Linked DNA regions of Homo sapiens: region 1 is linked to region 2. Evidence: fine-mapped expression QTL. A gene starts in region 2. The other region holds a variant in brackets. All regions are shown on one strand. Distances are from middle to middle. Region 1 overlaps SLC27A5 (solute carrier family 27 member 5). Region 2 holds the start of ZNF584 (zinc finger protein 584).

Region 1 (8,328 bases), 98 kb before region 2:
CCAAGGCCTCCCGAAGCCAGCCATCCTCACGCATGAGCGGGTACTGCAGATGAGCAAGATGCTGTCCTTATCTGGGGCCACAGCTGATGATGTGGTTTACACGGTCCTGCCTCTGTACCACGTGATGGGACTTGTCGTTGGGATCCTCGGCTGCTTAGATCTCGGTAAGCCCACTTCTGAGGATCCCTCCAGTCTACAGGACCACGGGAGTAAGTGTCGGCGTGGGGCTGTCAAGGCAAAAAGACACCATAGGTTACCCAGCACCCTGTGTTCTCACTTTTGAGAAGGGACACCCACCAATGACTACCAGGGCCGCATGGACAGAAGCTTGGACACCCACACAGTCCCTGATGGCCATGCTTTGGTCAGGAGGTGACAAGACCTGATACGAGTGATGGTCACAGGCATCCAAGGAAGGTGTGGTGCTCAGGAGATGATGGGGATGCTGGCCCAGATTTGTGACATGGCCCCAAGGGCAGCTGGAGTAGGAGTGCTCTCAAGCACTCCACAGGGCTGTCTCTCTGGACTCTTGATTCAGAGTCTAGATGGGGACCTCTCCATAGCTTGTTCTTTTTGTTTTCTCTCTTTTTTTTTTATTTTAATTTTTATTTATTTATTTTTTTTCGAGACAGAGTCTTGCTTTGTCACCCAGGCTGGAGTGCAGAGGCATGATCTTGGCTCACTGCAACCTCTGCCTCCTGGGTTCAAGCAATTCTCCTGCCTCATCCTCCTGAGTAACTGGGATTACAGGCGCCCACCACCACGCCCGGCTAATTTTTGTAGTTTTAGTAGAGACGGGATTTCACCATCTTGGCCAGGCTGGTCTTGAACTCCTGACCTCGTGATCCACCTGCCTTGGCCTCCCAAAGTGCTGAGATTACAGGTGTGAGCCACCGCACCTGGCTATTTTCTCTCTCTCTCTCTTTTTTTTTTTGAGACAGAGTCTCGCTCTGTCGCCCAGGCTGGAGTGCGGTGGCATGATCTCGGCTCACTGCAAGCTCCGCCTTCCAGGTTCAAGCGATTTTCCTGCCTCAGCCTCCTGAGTAGCTGGGATTACAGGCACGCACCACCACGCCCAGCTAATTTTTGTATTTTTACTAGAGACTAGGTTTCACCATGTTGGTCAGGCTGGTCTCAAACTCCTGACCTTGTGATCTGCCCACATTTGCGGGCATTTGCCTCCCAAAGCGCTGGGATTACAGGTGTGACCCACCACGCCCGGCCTTTTTGTGTTTTCCAGCTATTATCATGGCCATGTGTGGTTGCTCATGCCTATAATCCCTGCACTTTGGGTGCCAAGGCAGGAGGATCACTTGAGTCCAGGAGTTCAACACCAGCGTGGGCAACATAGTAAGAGGCCATCTGTTAAAAAAAAATTTTAAAAAGCCACGCATGGTGGTATCGGGGGAACCTGCCCCTAATATTTCAATGTAGGTTCTTTTTTTTTTTTTTTTTGAGATGGAGTCTCGCTCTGTCGCCCAGGCTGGAGTGCAGTGGTGCGATCTCAGCTCACTGCAAGCTCTGCCTCCTGGGTTCATGCCATTCTCCTGCCTCAGCCTCCCCAGTAGCTGGGACTACAGGCGCCTGCCACCGCGCCCGGCTAATTTTTTGTATTTTTAGTAGAGATGGGGTTTCACATTTAGCCAGGATGGTCTCAATCTCCTGACCTCATGATCCTCCCACCTCGGCCTCCCAAAGTGCTGGGATTACAGGTGTGAGCCACTGTGCCCGGCCTCGATGTAGGTTCTTTCTATTTTCCGTAAGTGCTGGCCAGCTGAGAAATAAAGAGAAAGAGTACAAAGAGAGGAATTTGACAGCTGGGCCTCCGGGGGTGACATCACATATCGGTAGGACCATGATGCCCACCTGAGCTCAAAGCCAGCAAGTTTTATTAAGGATTTCAGAAGGGAAGGGGGTGTAAGAACCGAGAATAGGTACAAAGATCACATGCTTCAAAGGGCAAAAAACGGAACTACTGATCAGGGTCCAACAAAGATCACAAGGCAAAGGGCAAAAGCAGAACTGATAAGGGTCTATGTTCAGTGGTGCACATATTGTCTTGATAAACATCTTAAACAACAGAAAACAGGGTTCAAGAGCAGAGAACTGGTCTGACCTCAAATTTACCAGGGCGGGGTTTTTCCCCACCCTAGTAAGCCTGAGGGTACTGCAGGAGACCAGGGTGCATCTCAGTCCTTATCTCAACTGCATAGGACAGACATTCCCAGAGCGGCCATTTATAGACCTCCCCCCAGGAATGAATTCCTTTCCCAGGGTCTTAATGTTAATATTCCTTGCTAGGAAAATAATTTAGCAATATCTCTCCTACTTGCACGTCCACTTATAGGCTCTCTGCAAGAAGAAAAATATGGCTCTTTTTGCCCAGCCCCGCAGGCAGTCAGACCTTAGGGTTGTCTTCCCTTGTTCCCTAAAATCACTCTCATTCTGTTCTTTTTCAATGTGCGCTGATTTCACATTGTTCAAACACACATTTTACAATCAATTTGTACAGTTAACACAATTATCACAGGGTCCTGAGGTGACGTACATCCTCAGCTTATGAAGATAACAGGATTAAGAGATGAAAGTAAGACAGGCGTAAGAAATTATAAGAGTATTATTTGGGAAGTGATAAATGTCCATGTTATCTTCACAATTTATGTTCCTCTGCCGTGGCTCCAGCCGGTCCGTCTGTTAGGGGTCCCTGACTTCCCGCAACAGTGGTGAGCACTTGTGAGCGATTCTTCTGCCTCAGCATCCCGAGTAGCTGTTATTACAGGTGCCCACCACTATGCCCGGCTAATTTTTGAATTTTTAGTATAGGTGGGGTCTCACCATGTTGGCCAGGCTGGTCTCCAACACCTGACCTCATGATCCACCCACCTCAGCCTCCCAAAGTGCTGGGATTACAGGCATGAGCCACCGCGCCCGGCCAAATTTTTCTTTTTTTTTTAATTATGAAAAGTTTAGCTGTGCCCGGTGGTTCACGCCTGTAATCCCAGCACTTTGGGAGGCTGAGGCGGGTGGATCACCTGAGGTCAGGAGTTCAAGACAAGCCTGGTCAACATAGTGAAATCTGTCTCTACTTAAAATACAAAAATTAGCCAGTCATGGTGGCTCACGCCTGTAATCCCAGCACTTTGGGAAGCTGAGGCCACTGGATCACCTGAAATCAGGAGTTTGAGACCAGCCTGGCCAACATGGTAAAACCCTGTCTGTACTGAAAATACAAAATTAGCTGGGCGTGGTGATGCGAGCCTGTGTTTCCAGCTACTCGGGAGGCTGAGGCAGGAAAATCGCTTCAACCTGGGAGGCGGGGGTTGCAAAAAGAGTGAAACTCCCTTGCAAAAAAAAAAAAAAAGTGAAAATAGTTTGATGACATCTCATGTATCTTCGCCCAGCATCAATAATTGTTAACATGTTGCCAGTTTAATTTCGCATATACTTCTCTGTTTCTTTTTTGTTTGTTTTTGAGACACAGTCTCGCTCTGTCACCCAGGCTGGAGTGCAGTGGCACCATCTCAGATCACCACAACCTCTGCCTCCCGGGTTCAAGCAATTCTCTGCTGAGGCTGAGCCTCCTGAGTAGCTGGGATTACAGGCATGCGCCTCCACACCTGGCTAATGTTTGTATTCTTAGTAGAGACGGGGTTTTGCCATGTTGGCCAGGCTGGTCTCGAACTCCTGACCTCAGGTGATCCACCTACCTCGGCCTCCCAAAGTGCTGGGATTACAGGCGTGAACCACCGCGCCTGGCGTCTGTTTGTTTTCAAACTTTTATCATGGCCAGGTGTGGTTCCTCATGCCTATAATCCCTGCACTTTGGGGTACCAAGGCAGGAGGATCACTTGAGCCCAGGAGTTCAACACCAGCCTGGGCAACATAGTGAGAGTCCATCTGTTAAAAAAAAAAAAAAGCCAGGCATGGTGGTGAGCACTTGTGAGCGATTCTCCTGCCTCA[G/C]CCTCCCTAGTAGCTGTTATTACAGGCTCCCACCACCGTGCCTGGCTAACTTTTGTATTTTTAGTAGAGACAGGGTTTAACCATGTTGGCCAGGCTGGTCTCGAACTCCTGACCTCGTGATCCGCCCGCCTCGGCCTCCCAAAGTGCTGGGATTACAGGTGTGAACTACCGTGCCCGGCCAAATGTTTTTTTTTTTTTTTTTGAGTCGGGGTTTCACTATTGTTGCCCAGGATGGAATGCAATGGCGCGATGTCGGCTCACTGCAACCTCTGCCTCCTGGGTTCAAGCGATTCTCCTGCCTCAGCATCCCAAGTAGCTGGGATTACAGGCATGTGCCCTCACGACCGGCTAATTTTTTTTTATGTTTTTAGTAGAGATGGGGTTTCTCCATGTTGGTCAGGCTTGTCTCAAACTCCCGACCTCAGGTGATCCGCCCACCTCAGCCTCGCAAAGTGCTGGGATTACAGGCGTGAGCCACTGCGCCCGGCCAAATTGTTTTTTTAATTATGAAAAGTTTAGGCTGTGCCCAGTGGTTTACGCCTGTAATCCCAGCACTTTGGGAGGATGAGTCTGGTGGATCACCTGAGGTCAGGAGTTCAAGATCAGCCTGGCTAACATGGCAAAATCCGTCTCTACCTAAAATACAAAAATTACCGGGGCATGGTGGCTCACGCCTGTAATCCCAGCACTTTGGGAGGCTGAGGCCGGCGGAACACCTGAAGTCAGGAGTTTGAGACCAGCCTGGCCAACATGGTGAAACCCTGTCTCTACTGAAAATACAAAATTAGCTGGGTATGGTGGTGGGCGCCTGTATTTCCAGCTACCAGGGAGGCTGAGGCAGGAGAATCGCTTGAACCCGGGGCGCAGGGGTTGCAGTGAGCCGAGATCTAGCCATTGCATTCCAGCCTGTGCAAAAAGCGAGACTCTGTCTCAAAAAAAAAAAAAAAAAAAAGTGAAAATAGTTTGATGACATCTCAGGTATCTTCACCCAGCTTCAATAATTGTTAACATGCTGCCAGTTTAATTTCTTTTTTTTTTTTTCTTTGAGATGGAGTCTCGCTCTGTCGCCCAGGCTGGAGTGCAGTGGCGCAATCTCTGCTCACGGCAAGCTCCGCCTCCTGGGTTCATGCCATTCTCCTGCCTAAGTCTCCGGAGTAGCTGGGACTACAAGTGACCGCCACCACGCCTGGCTATTTTTTTTGTATTTTTAGTAGAGACAGGGTTTCACGGTGTTCACCAGGATGGTCTCAATCTCCTGACCTCGTGATCCGCCCGCCTCGGCCTCCCAAAGTGCTGGGATTACAGGCATGAGCCACCGCGCCCAGGGCCAGTTTAATTTCACATGTACTTCCCTGTTTCTTTTTTGTTTGTTTGTTTGTTTTTGAGACAGAGTCTCGCTCTGTCGCCCAGGCTGGAGTGCAGTGGCACCATCTTGGGTCACCGCAAGCTCCGCCCCGCCCGCCCCCCCCCCCCCCCCAGGGTTCAATCAGTTTTCTGCCTCAGCCTCCTGAATAGCTGGGATTACAGGCACGCACCGCCACAAGCGGCTAATTTTTGTATTTTTAGTAGAGACAGGGTTTCGCCATGTTGGCCAGGCTGGTCTCAAACTCCTGACCTCAGGTGATCCACCTGCCTCGGCCTCCCAAAGTGCTGGGATTACAGGCGTGAGCCACCGTGCCCAGCCACTTCCCTATTTTTTTCCAGAATATATCAGAGCAAATCCTAGACACTGCATCTTTATGCTTGTAAATATTGCAGTACATATCTCTAACATATAAGCACTGAAGAAACTGTAACCAAAGTGATTATTACACGTAACAACATTAATATCATATGATGTCCTTAATATCATATGATGTAACCCCTTAATATCATATGATGTCCAGTCTATGTTCAGATTTCTCCAATGGGCTGTTTTGGTTTGGTTTTGTTTTTAGAGACAGAGTCTTGCTTTGTCACCCAGGCTGGAGTACAGTTGTGTGATGTTGGCTCACTACAACCTCTGCCTCCTGGGTTCAAACGATTCTCATGCCTCATCCTCCTGAGCAGTTGTGATTACAGGTGTGGACCACCATGCCCAGCTAATTTTTTTGTATTTTTAGTAAAGACAGGGTTTCGCCCTGTTGGCCAGTCTGGTCTTGAACTTCTGGCCTCAAGTGATCTGAACACGTTGGCCTCCCAAAGTGCTGAGATTACAGGTGTGAGCTACTGTGCCCAGCCAATTGGCTGTTTTTTTGTTTGTTTGTTTGTTTGTTTGTTTTTAACAATTAAACAGTCTCCCCATTGTATTTGCTTGTAGGTCTCTGTTCCCCTTTCATCTGCATTTCTTGTTAAATTGGAAACTTTAACTAGAGGTGTTGTTAGATTCAGTTTTTTTCTTTTTCTTTTGAGACAGGGTCTCACTCTGTCACCCAGGCTGGAGTGCAGTGGTGTAAGCTCGGCTCACTACAGCCTCCCCCTCCTGGGTTCAAGCGATTCTTCCACCTCAGCCTCCCGAGTAGCTGGGACTACAGGTGTGCGCCACCACGCCTGGCTAATTTTTGCATTTTTTGGTAGAGATAGGGTTTCACCATGTTGGCTAGGCTGGTCTCAAACTCCTGATCTTTCAGGTGATCCACCCCCCTCAGCCTCCCAAAGTGTTGGGATAACAGGTGTGAGCCACCACGCCCAGCCCCCTATATCTTATTAATCCATGTGTCCATACGTCAATACAACCATACAAACATTCACCAACCCACCCATCTACCTACTCACCTACTTCCTCACTCATTCATTCATTCATCCACCCACCCATCTATCCATCCTTACACCTATCCATCTTTCTCTTTTTCTTTTTTTTTTTTTTTAAGACAGAGTCTCACTCTGTCGCCCAGGCTGGAGTGCAGTGGCGCTATCTCGGCTCACTGCAAGCTCCGCCTCCCAGGTTCACGCCATTCTCCTGCCTCAGCCTCCCGAGTAGCTGGGACTACAGGCGCCCGCTACCACGCCCAGCTAATTTTTTGTATTTTCAGTAGAGACGGGTTTCACCGTGTTAGCCAGGATGGTCTTGATCTCCTGACCTCGTGATCCGCCCACCTCGGCCTCCCTAAGTCCTGGGATTACAGGCGTGACGATCCTCACCCAGCCACCTATCCATCTTTCTACCCCCCTGCCTCTGCATGTCACTGTCCAGCCATCCATCTACTCACTCACTACTCTAACTGTCCACCCATCCATCTACTCACTCACTACTCTAACTGTCCAGCCATCCATCTACTCACTCACTACTCTAACTGTCCACCCATCCATCTACTCACTCACTACTCTAACTGTCCACCCATCCATCTACTCACTCACTACTCTAACTGTCCACCCATCCATCTACTCACTCACTACTCTAACTGTTCACCCATCCATCTTCTCACTCACTACTCTGTCCACACATCCATCTTCTCACTCACTACTCTGTCCACCCATCCATCTACTCACTCACTACTCTAACTGTCCACCCATCCATCCACTCACTCACTACTCTAACTGTTCACCCATCCATCTTCTCACTCACTACTGTAACTGTTCACCCATCCATCTACTCACTCACTACTCTGTTCACCCATCCATCTTCTCACTCACTACTCTAACTGTCCACACATCCATCTTCTCACTCACTACTCTGTCCACCCATCCATCTACTCACTCACTACTCTAACTGTCCACCCATCCATCCACTCACTCACTACTCTAACTGTTCACCCATCCATCTTCTCACTCACTACTCTAACTGTTCACCCATCCATCTACTCACTCACTACTCTGTCACCCATCCATCTACTCACTCACTACTCTAACTGTCCACCCATCCATCTACTCACTCACTACTCTAACTGTTCACCCATCCATCTACTCACTCACTACTCTGTCCACCCACCCATCTACTCACTCACTACTCTAACTGTCCATCCATTCATCTTTCCATCCATCCACCATATCCATCCACCTGCCCACCCATCTGCTTAGCTGGGCATTCATTTATCGTAATCAAGAGTGATTTGAGCTTCGAGTCAGTGACAAGCCAAAATAAAAATTAAAAATGTGGCTGGGCACAGAGGCTCATGCCTGTAATCACAGCACTTTGGAGGCCGAGGCGGGTGGATCACCTGAAAGGTCAGGAGTTCAAGACCAGCCTGGCCAACATGGTGAAACCCCGTCTGTACTTAAAAAAGTACAAAAATTAGCCAGCTGTGGTGGCGGGTGCTTGTAATCCCAGCAACTCAGAAAGCTGAGGCAGGAGAATCGCTTGAACCCGGGAGGGAGAGGTTGCAGTGAGCGGAGATTGCACCACTGCACTCCAGCCTGGGCAACAGAGCGAGACTCCGTCTCAAAAATAAA
Region 2 (8,328 bases):
TTGCAGTGAGCCGAGATCGCGCCACTGCACTCCAGCCTGGCGACAGAACAAGACTCCGTCTCAAAAAAAGAAAAGGCAATCAATTATTCTAATATACTACATTAACAGAAGAGAGGACAAAAATCACATGATCATTTCATTAGACATTGGAAAAGCATTTGACAAAATCTAGTGACCTTTCTTTTCTTTTTTTTTTTTGAGACGTAGTTTCACTCTTGTTGCCCAGGCTGGAGTGCAATGGTGCGATCTCAGCTCACTGCAACCTCCACCTCCCAGGTTCAAGCGATTCTCCTGCCTCAGCTTCCCTAGTAGCTGGGATTACAGGCATGTGCCACCACACCTGGCTAGTTTTCTATTTTTAGTAGAGATGGGGTTTCACCATGTTGACCACGCTGGTCTTGAACTCCTGACCTCAGGTAATCCACCTGCCTCGCCCTCCCAAAATGCTGAAATTACAGGCATGAGCCACTGCACCTGGCCATGACTTTTCTTAATAAACACATTAAATGAACTAGAAAGAGAAGGGAACTTCCTCACCTGAAATGGGCATCTGCAAAAAACCAACAGCTAACACCATACTTAACAGTGAAGAATAAAGTACTTAGGAATAAATTTAACGAAAGAAGTACCTTTGTGGCCAGGCGCAGTGGCTCACGCCTGTAATCCCAGCACTTTGAGAGGCCAAGGCAGGCAGATCATGAGGTCCGGAGTTCAAGACCAGCCTGGCCAACAAAGTGAAACCCTGTCTCTACTAAAAATACAAAAATTAGCCAGGCATGGTGGCGCGAGCCTGTAGTCCCAGCTACTCGGGAGACTGAGGCAGGAGAATCGCTTGAACCCTGGAGGCAGAGGTTGTGGTGAGCCGAGATTGCGCCACTGCACTCCAGCCTGGGCAACAGAGTGAGGCTCTGTCTCAAAAAAAAAAAAAAAAAAAAAAAAAAAAAAATTATATATATATATACATATATATATATATATACACACATATATATATATACATATATATATACACATATATACATATATATATACATATATACATATATATACACATATATACATATATACACATATATACACATATATATACACATATATACACATATATACACATATATATACATATATATACATATATATACATATATATACATATATATATACACATATATATATATATATATATATATATATATATATATATATTTCCCAAACCGTTCTGATTAAAATTCATGGCTCAAGCCTGGCCCAGGGAGGTCCCTGTAAAATTTCTTTTGTAGGGAGGCAAAACCCAGAGCACAGAGAAGCCATGTCTTCAAGAGAGTCACATGGCCAGGAAAAGGCAGAGCTTGGTGGGATTTGGTGGGCAAACTATGAAACATCTGACCCCCAAAACCTGCTCCACTAGCTCCTGGGGCAAGAGGTGTTGAGGCTGCCAACAGCATTGCTCAGAGAAAGGCAGGGAAAGAGCACACCGCCGAGTCCCACCACCGAGTCCCACCACCCACAATACCTACAACAGGGAATCTGGGAAGGAAAGAGCCCCCATGGTCTGGCTTCGTTATGGACAGAACTTCGCATGGGGAAAATGAGGGGGTAGTCAGTGTGCTGGGGGACAGTGTAAGAGACTTACCCAGTGAGCTAACGAGTGCAAAGTTCTCCAGCATCACATCCCGGTATAGGCCCTTCTGGGTCACATTAAGGAGCCCCCACTCCTCCCTGGAGAAATATACCGTCACATCCTCAAACATCACCAAGCCCTGCAATGATGGGTCCAACTGAGCCTTGGGGTCAATGATGGGCAGAAAAAAACAACCAAAATATGGACAGATGGACACATTCAGGCCCTTGACCTGTATCTCAGGGTCCTATCACATCTCCCCCTGACATTATCTTTCCCTATGAGCTCTAAACTCTTCCCCACCTTACTCCCTACACATACCCTTATACCTTCCTTCTCCTATCCCAGAGGAATATCAGAGCTGCTGGTGTTATTGATGCTTCTGGTGTTACTACTGGAAACTGTGTCCAGCCCAAAGCGACATCAGGTTGGTGACCAGACTGATGCCATCTATGTGCAGGGCCAAGGGCACAGGCTCCACTCTATCTCCTGCCTGCCAATTCCAGTCCCAGAGATCATACCTCTCAGACGCAACCAAACCTATGCTCATCCTTCTCCCTTAGGTCTCAAGTACCTGGTCCCAGGGTCCAGTTTGCCTCCTGCTCAACAGGCACAAAACTGGACAACAGAATGCCTAAAACTGTACACCCCCAGCACAACGTCCCCAGTTTACCCTATAGGCAATTGCCTGGCCTTCCACACGCCGTTCTGCACATGCGTCTCCAGAGGGCCTGGCACAGCAACTACGACCCCATCCTGTCCCAGTCCTGCGGCACATCTCCAATGGCTCCCACTGCCAAGGGCATGCCCCAGCCGTGCATCAAAGACCTCCCCCTGGAATCATACGCAGATCTCCTGCCCTCCTCCAACTCTGCCCTGGCACACGCCGCCCCCCACCTGGTGGGCCCCCTCATTCCTCGGAGGCATCCTCTGCTCACCTCCGCCTCCCCGGCCATTGGACCGTGCGGGCAGAACCCGTGGACTGGACCCACGGCCTCAGCCGAAACGCGTCCCGGGCGCGGAAACCCTCGGCCGCCGTGGAACCTTCCCGGGAAGCTCTCCCCGCGCGGGTGAAATGCGTCCGAAGACAGGGAACCGCTTCCCGGAGCCGCTGGGAAGGAGGACGGTACGGAGGCCCGGGAGACCCACGGCGCCTGTCCGCGAGCGATAAGTCTGAGGAAGATGGAGCCACTCGCCGGTGGGGCACGGCGCGTGGAAGGCGCGGCAAAGGTCCCTGCCCTTCACCTCGCGCAGGGGATCGCGAGGAAGTCACCCCGGCCCACGCAGAGCTGCCTGAGGCGCCGGGACAGCCTTCCCGCCGAGGACTGCGGACTGCCGGGCAACGCCGGAACTCCCGGAACTCCCGTGGCCCGCGCCTCCCCTCGCTCGGCGCCCCTCACGCCACGACCTCCATTCCCGGCTCTCCTCGCGGCGCGGCTGGGTCGTTGCCAAGGCGATAAGGGAGGGCGCCGCTAGCTCCTGAAGCGGGACGTGAACTACATTTCCCATAAGGAGCCTCGACGTGGGGCCGTTCAGACTTGGCCAATGGCGGCCCAGGAACGGGAACGTTCGGGCGGGCCCTGCGTGGGGCGGGGCTTCCGGCGTCGGCTTTCGGCGCTGGCTTTGGGGCGGTTTGCGGCAGTGGGATCATTGGGCGGTGGGCGGTGTGGAGGAGTCTCCGCTGGTCCGCAGAAACGAACGAAGGCGCGAGAATCGGGAAGTTCTGCCTCAGTGACCTGTACGCGTCCTAGCCGCAGTGAATGTTGCTGAACCCCGGTGACCTCACAGTGGAGGGGCGGCCCCATGGGGCCATCGGACCGCGCCGCGCGGGGGCGTTCGCCAGGGCCTCCGCAGAAGCCCGCCTGTGCCCGCAACCGCCCCGAAATTCTCTCCCTGGCACCGTGTCCGCTTTACGGAGCCCGGAGCAAGGCTCAGAAAAATGTCCCAGCCAAAAACATGGTACATGCCTGTCATCAGGCAAGTCTTCAAAGAGCGGCTGGGACCAGGGGCCGAGGGACCTCGTTTAGAGGCGGCTTAGGGGGAAGGTCAGCAGTTGTGTTTCAGTTGTGTTGGGTTTTCGGCGCCCCACAATGCGGGCGACGTATGGGCCACAGGTGTGGATGCCAGGGACAGGTCGCCCTGCACATGGCTGAGGCACGGTAGGCTTGTAGTCTACCCCATATCAGGCCATGGTGATCTCAGGTATGGGGGCCTGGGAGAGGAGAGTGAGTACATGGCTGAGTACGTCAGAGCACGGGGTCAGGGACACATCAGGGGAGGACGCTGGCAGGAGAATAACCGGGCTCCTGGGTGTCCTCCGCTGAATTCAGACGCGTTCATGTTAGAGCAGGTGGGCCTGCGTCCTCCCGGACGAACGGAGTTCTTAGGCAAGGTCCAGAGGAGCTTCTACCTGAAGTGGTGCTGGAGAACTTTGCACTCAGTGCTGGGTGAGACCACTGGCACCATAACTCTCCCCAGCCTCAACTCTGGTTTTTTTCCTCTGTTCTTTCCATGTTCCCCTTGGAAGTCGCTGTTGGTCGTGGCACTGAGGCCCAGATCATGCCACCTCCTCTAACAAGTGGCTGAGTGGACACCCCACACATTCTACCCAAGGGCCGTGAGTGGCCAAGATCGGGGCTCAGAAGTCTCTGAATCTTCACAGCTGGTCACGTTCAGCTCGGTCACTTCCTGTAAGATTCCAGGCACTGCATGCACTGACATGGGTGCGTGTGGGCCCACTGGGTCCTGCCTGGGAGCCTTCCCTGAATGTTCATTTTTTGCAGGTCTGTGTTTGTCTTGGAGTAAGGATTATTCTCGCTTGCTGGGGTCATGGTGTTTTGGCCTCTCCTGGCCTGGACTCTCAAAAACTCATCATCCTTCATAGGTCTGAAGGCTTCTACATTCCCACCAGCAGGTGGACCATATGAACTCAAAACTAGTTGTGGCAGAGGGACCCTGAAGAGATCTACCCCTGGTGAATGCCCCCAGGAGTGGGCTGTTCTCACACCTGGTGCCCAGCCTGTGCCCTCGCAGGTCTTGGTGCCTCCACTCAGCTCAATTCCAGTTTTCTGGCCATGCCCCGCTGTGTCCCTTTCTCTCTCCTTAGTGCCTAGCTGTGCAATGTTTGCCTCTCCTTAACATGTCCTCAGCTGACCCCATATCCTCAGTCCTTGCAACCCTGTTCCTCAGTGACACCTGTGTATTCTCTCCAGTGGAGACACAGGTGGGACACCCCCAAGCTCATGGTACATGCCTGTCATCAGTACCCCTGGACTGTCATGGTGGGTCAGTCTGCCCTAGGCTGGACTGACCAACCTGTTCATTCCCCCACAGGATTGCCCTTTACAGTTCATGAGTTCCCCCAACTGGAGTGCAGACAAGAGCACTGATTGATGGACCAGGTAGACTTGAAACCAGGAATAGCACAAAAGTTATCAAAGAGGCTCAGCCATGGAGATTGCAAGCTGGGGATGGAAGTATCCCTGGAATTGAGCTGTTCTCACACCTGGTACCTGAGTTATACCCCTGGTGTCTGGGTACCAAGGTCACTAGCCTTGCCACTTTTCTATGTTCCTGATCCCCTACTAAACAGTCCACCTTTTCGCCTACTTCCCCTGACTCCTGTACCCTGTCCCCTCTTTCTGCCTAGTTTGAAGACACTGGTCATCCCATAACATGTCCTGGGCTAATACATATCCTCAAATCGTTCTTGAAAATCTGTTCCTCTTCCCTCCTCCCCCTCCCCCTCCCCCCCCCCCCGCTCTTTCCACGGTCTCCCTCTGATGCCGAGCCGAAGCTGGACGGTACTGCTGCCATCTCGGCTCACTGCAACCTCCCTGCCTGATTCTCTTGCCTCAGCCTGCCGAGTGCCTGCGATTGCAGGCGCGTGCCGCCACGCCTGACTGGTTTTCGTATTTTTTTTGGTGGAGACGGGGTTTCGCTGTGTTGGCCGGGCTGGTCTCCAGCTCCTAACCACGAGTGATCCGCCAGCCTCGGCCTCCCGAGGTGCCGGGATTGCAGACGGAGTCTCGTTCATTCAGTGCTCAATGGTGTCCAGGCTGGAGTGCAGTGGCGTGATCTCGGCTCGCTACAACCTCCACCTCCCAGCAACCCGCCTTGGCCTCCCAAAGTGCCGAGATTGCAGCCTCTGCCCGGCGGCCACCCCGTCTGGGAAGTGAGGAGCGTCTCCGCCTGGCCGCCCATCATCTGGGATGTGAGGAGCCCCTCTGCCTGGCTGCCCAGTCTGGAAAGTGAGGAGCGTCTCTGCCCGGCCGCCATCCCATCTAGGAAGTGAGGAGCGCCTCTTCCCGGCCGCCATCACATCTGGGAAGTGAGGAGCGTCTCTGCCCGGCCGCCCATCGTCTGAGATGTGGGGAGCATCTCTGCCCTGCCGCCCCGTCCGGGATGTGAGGAGCGTCTCTGCCCGGCCGCCCCGTCTGAGAAGTGAGGAGACCCTCTGCCTGGCAACTGCCCCGTCTGAGAAGTGAGGAGCCCCTCCGCCCGGCAGCCGCCCCGTCTGAGAAGTGAGGAGCCCCTCCGCCCAGCAGCCACCCCGTCTGGGAAGTGAGGAGCATCTCCGCCCGGCAGCCGCCCCGTCTGAGAAGTGAGGAGCCTCTCCGCCCAGCAGCCACCTCGTCCGGGAGGGAGGTGGGGGGGTCAGCCCCCCGCCCGGCCAGCCGCCCCGTCCGGGAGGGAGGTGGGGGGATCAGTCCCCCACCCGGCCAGCCGCCCTGTCCGGGAGATGAGGGGCGCCTCTGCCCGGCCGCCCCTACTGGGAAGTGAGGAGCCCTTCTGCCCGGCCAGCCGCTCCGTCCGGGAGGGAGGTGGGGGGGTCAGCCCCCCGCCCGGCCAGCCGCCCTGTCCGGAAGGGAGGTGGGGGGGTCAGCCCCCCGCGCGGCCAGCCGACCCGTCCGGGAGGGAGGTGGGGGGGTCAGCCCCCTGCCCGGCCAGCCGCCCCGTCCGGGAGGTGCGGGGCGCCTCTGCCCGGCCGCCCCTACTGGGAAGTGAGGAGCCCCTCTGCCCGGCCAGCCGCCCCATCTGGGAGGGAGGTGGGGGGGTCAGCCCCCCGCCCTGCCAGCCGCCCTGTCCGGGAGGGAGGTGGGGGGGTCAGCCCCCCGCCTGGCCAGCCACCCCGTCCGGGAGGTGAGGGGCGCCTCTGCCCGGCCGCCCCTACTGGGAAGTGAGGAGCCCCTCTGCCTGGCCAGCCGCCCCGTCCAGGAGGGAGGTGGGGGGGGGGGTCAGCCCCCCGCCTGGCGAGCCGCCCTGTCCGGGAGGTGAGGGGCGCCTCTGCCCGGCCGCCCCTACTGGGAAATGAGGAGCCCCTCTGCCCGGCCACCACCCCATCTGGGAGGTGTACCCAACAGCTCGTTGAGAACGGGCCATGATGACAATGGCGGTTTTGTGGAATAGAAAGGGGGGAAAGATGGGGAAAAGATTGAGAAATCGGATGGTTGCCGTGTCTGTGTAGAAAGAGGTAGACGTGGGAGACTTTTCATTTTGTTCTGTACTAAGAAAAATTCTTCTGCCTTGGGATCCTGTTGATCTGTGACCTTACCCCCAACCCTGTGCTCTCTGAAACATGTGCTGTATCCACTCAGGGTTGAATGGATTAAGGGCGGTGCAAGATGTGCTTTGTTAAACAGATGCTTGAAGGCAGCATGCTCCTTAAGAGTCATCACCACTCCCTAATCTCAAGTACCCAGGGACACAAACACTGCGGAAGGCCGCAGGGTCCTCTGCCTAGGAAAACCAGAGACCTTTGTTCACTTGTTTATCTGCTGACCTTCCCTCCCCTATTGTCCTGTGACCCTGCCAAATCCCCCTCTACGAGAAACACCCAAGAATGATCAATAAAAAAAAAAGAAAAAAAAAAAATCTGTTCCTCTGTGAGATGGGCCTGATCTCTCCCACGGGTGGAGCAGAGGAGTAGAGGGTCCAGGGCCTGAGTCTCCCATAGGCTAAGTATTTGCCCTGAGTCATAAAGCCAGTGGGAGGCAGTGCTACAGTTTGATTCCAGGAAGTCTCAGACCAAAGTTCTCTCTTAACCACTTACCTTTCCTGGGCTTAATAGTTAGTTCATTTATGTTTTTCCTGGCACTACTTCATTGGACCTCATTTTAGTTTCTTCTTTTTTTTTTTTTTTTTTGAGACGGAGTTGCTCTGACACCCAGGCTGGAGTGCAGTGCCACGATCTCACAGTAACCTCCGCCTCCCGGGTTCAAGCAATTCTGTCTCAGCCTCACGAATAGCTGGGACGACAAGCGCGTGCCACCACACCCGGCTAATTTTTGTATTTTTAGTAGAGTTGGGGTTTCACCATTTTGGCCAGGATGGTCTCCATCTCCTGACCTCGTGATCCGCCCCGCTCAGCCTCCCAAAATGCTGGGATTACAGGCATGAGCTACCGCACCCGGCCCATTTGTTAACATTGTAAAATGAATATTAGTACATTATTATTAATGTACATTATATGGGTTTTCACAAATGCATAAATTCATGTATCCACCATTACAATATAGTACAAAATACTTTTACTGCCCCCAAAAATTACTTGTGCTACTATTCATTCCTCCCTCCCTCCCTCCCTCCCTCCCACTGAGTCCCTGGCAGTCACTGCTTTACTGTCTCTATAGCTTTACCTTTTCCAGAATGTCATAAACTTGTAATCATACAGTATGTAGCTTTTTCAGTCTGGCTTCTGTCACTTA

The links. PIP is the estimated chance that this variant, and not a neighbour inherited with it, causes the effect.
Region 1: its variant is the best candidate, but not a certain one, in a credible set for the expression of ZNF584 in fibroblasts (GTEx, PIP 0.56).

What each region holds. Positions count from the first base shown.
Region 1 is chr19:58,501,683-58,510,010 of GRCh38, reverse strand. It overlaps SLC27A5 (solute carrier family 27 member 5), which reads left to right. Exons shown (of 10, transcript NM_012254.3): 3 at 6-164. LOC105372485 (a long non-coding RNA gene) reads right to left here. Exons shown (of 2, transcript XR_001754024.2): 2 at 1-227. Among named protein-coding and RNA genes, the nearest start is that of SLC27A5, 6.1 kb to the left of the region's middle. RefSeq lists a silencer at 3,198-3,411. The variant G/C (reference allele first, on the strand shown) is at 3,961.
Region 2 is chr19:58,403,397-58,411,724 of GRCh38, reverse strand. It overlaps ZNF584 (zinc finger protein 584), which reads right to left and starts at 3,076. Exons shown (of 4, transcript NM_173548.3): 1 at 2,560-3,076; 2 at 1,634-1,784. The coding sequence starts at 2,577. It overlaps ZNF584-DT (ZNF584 divergent transcript), which reads left to right and starts at 3,262. Exons shown (of 1, transcript NR_186337.1): 1 at 3,262-8,328. RefSeq lists a silencer at 2,948-3,007 and enhancers at 3,268-3,317, 3,244-3,889, 3,868-3,917.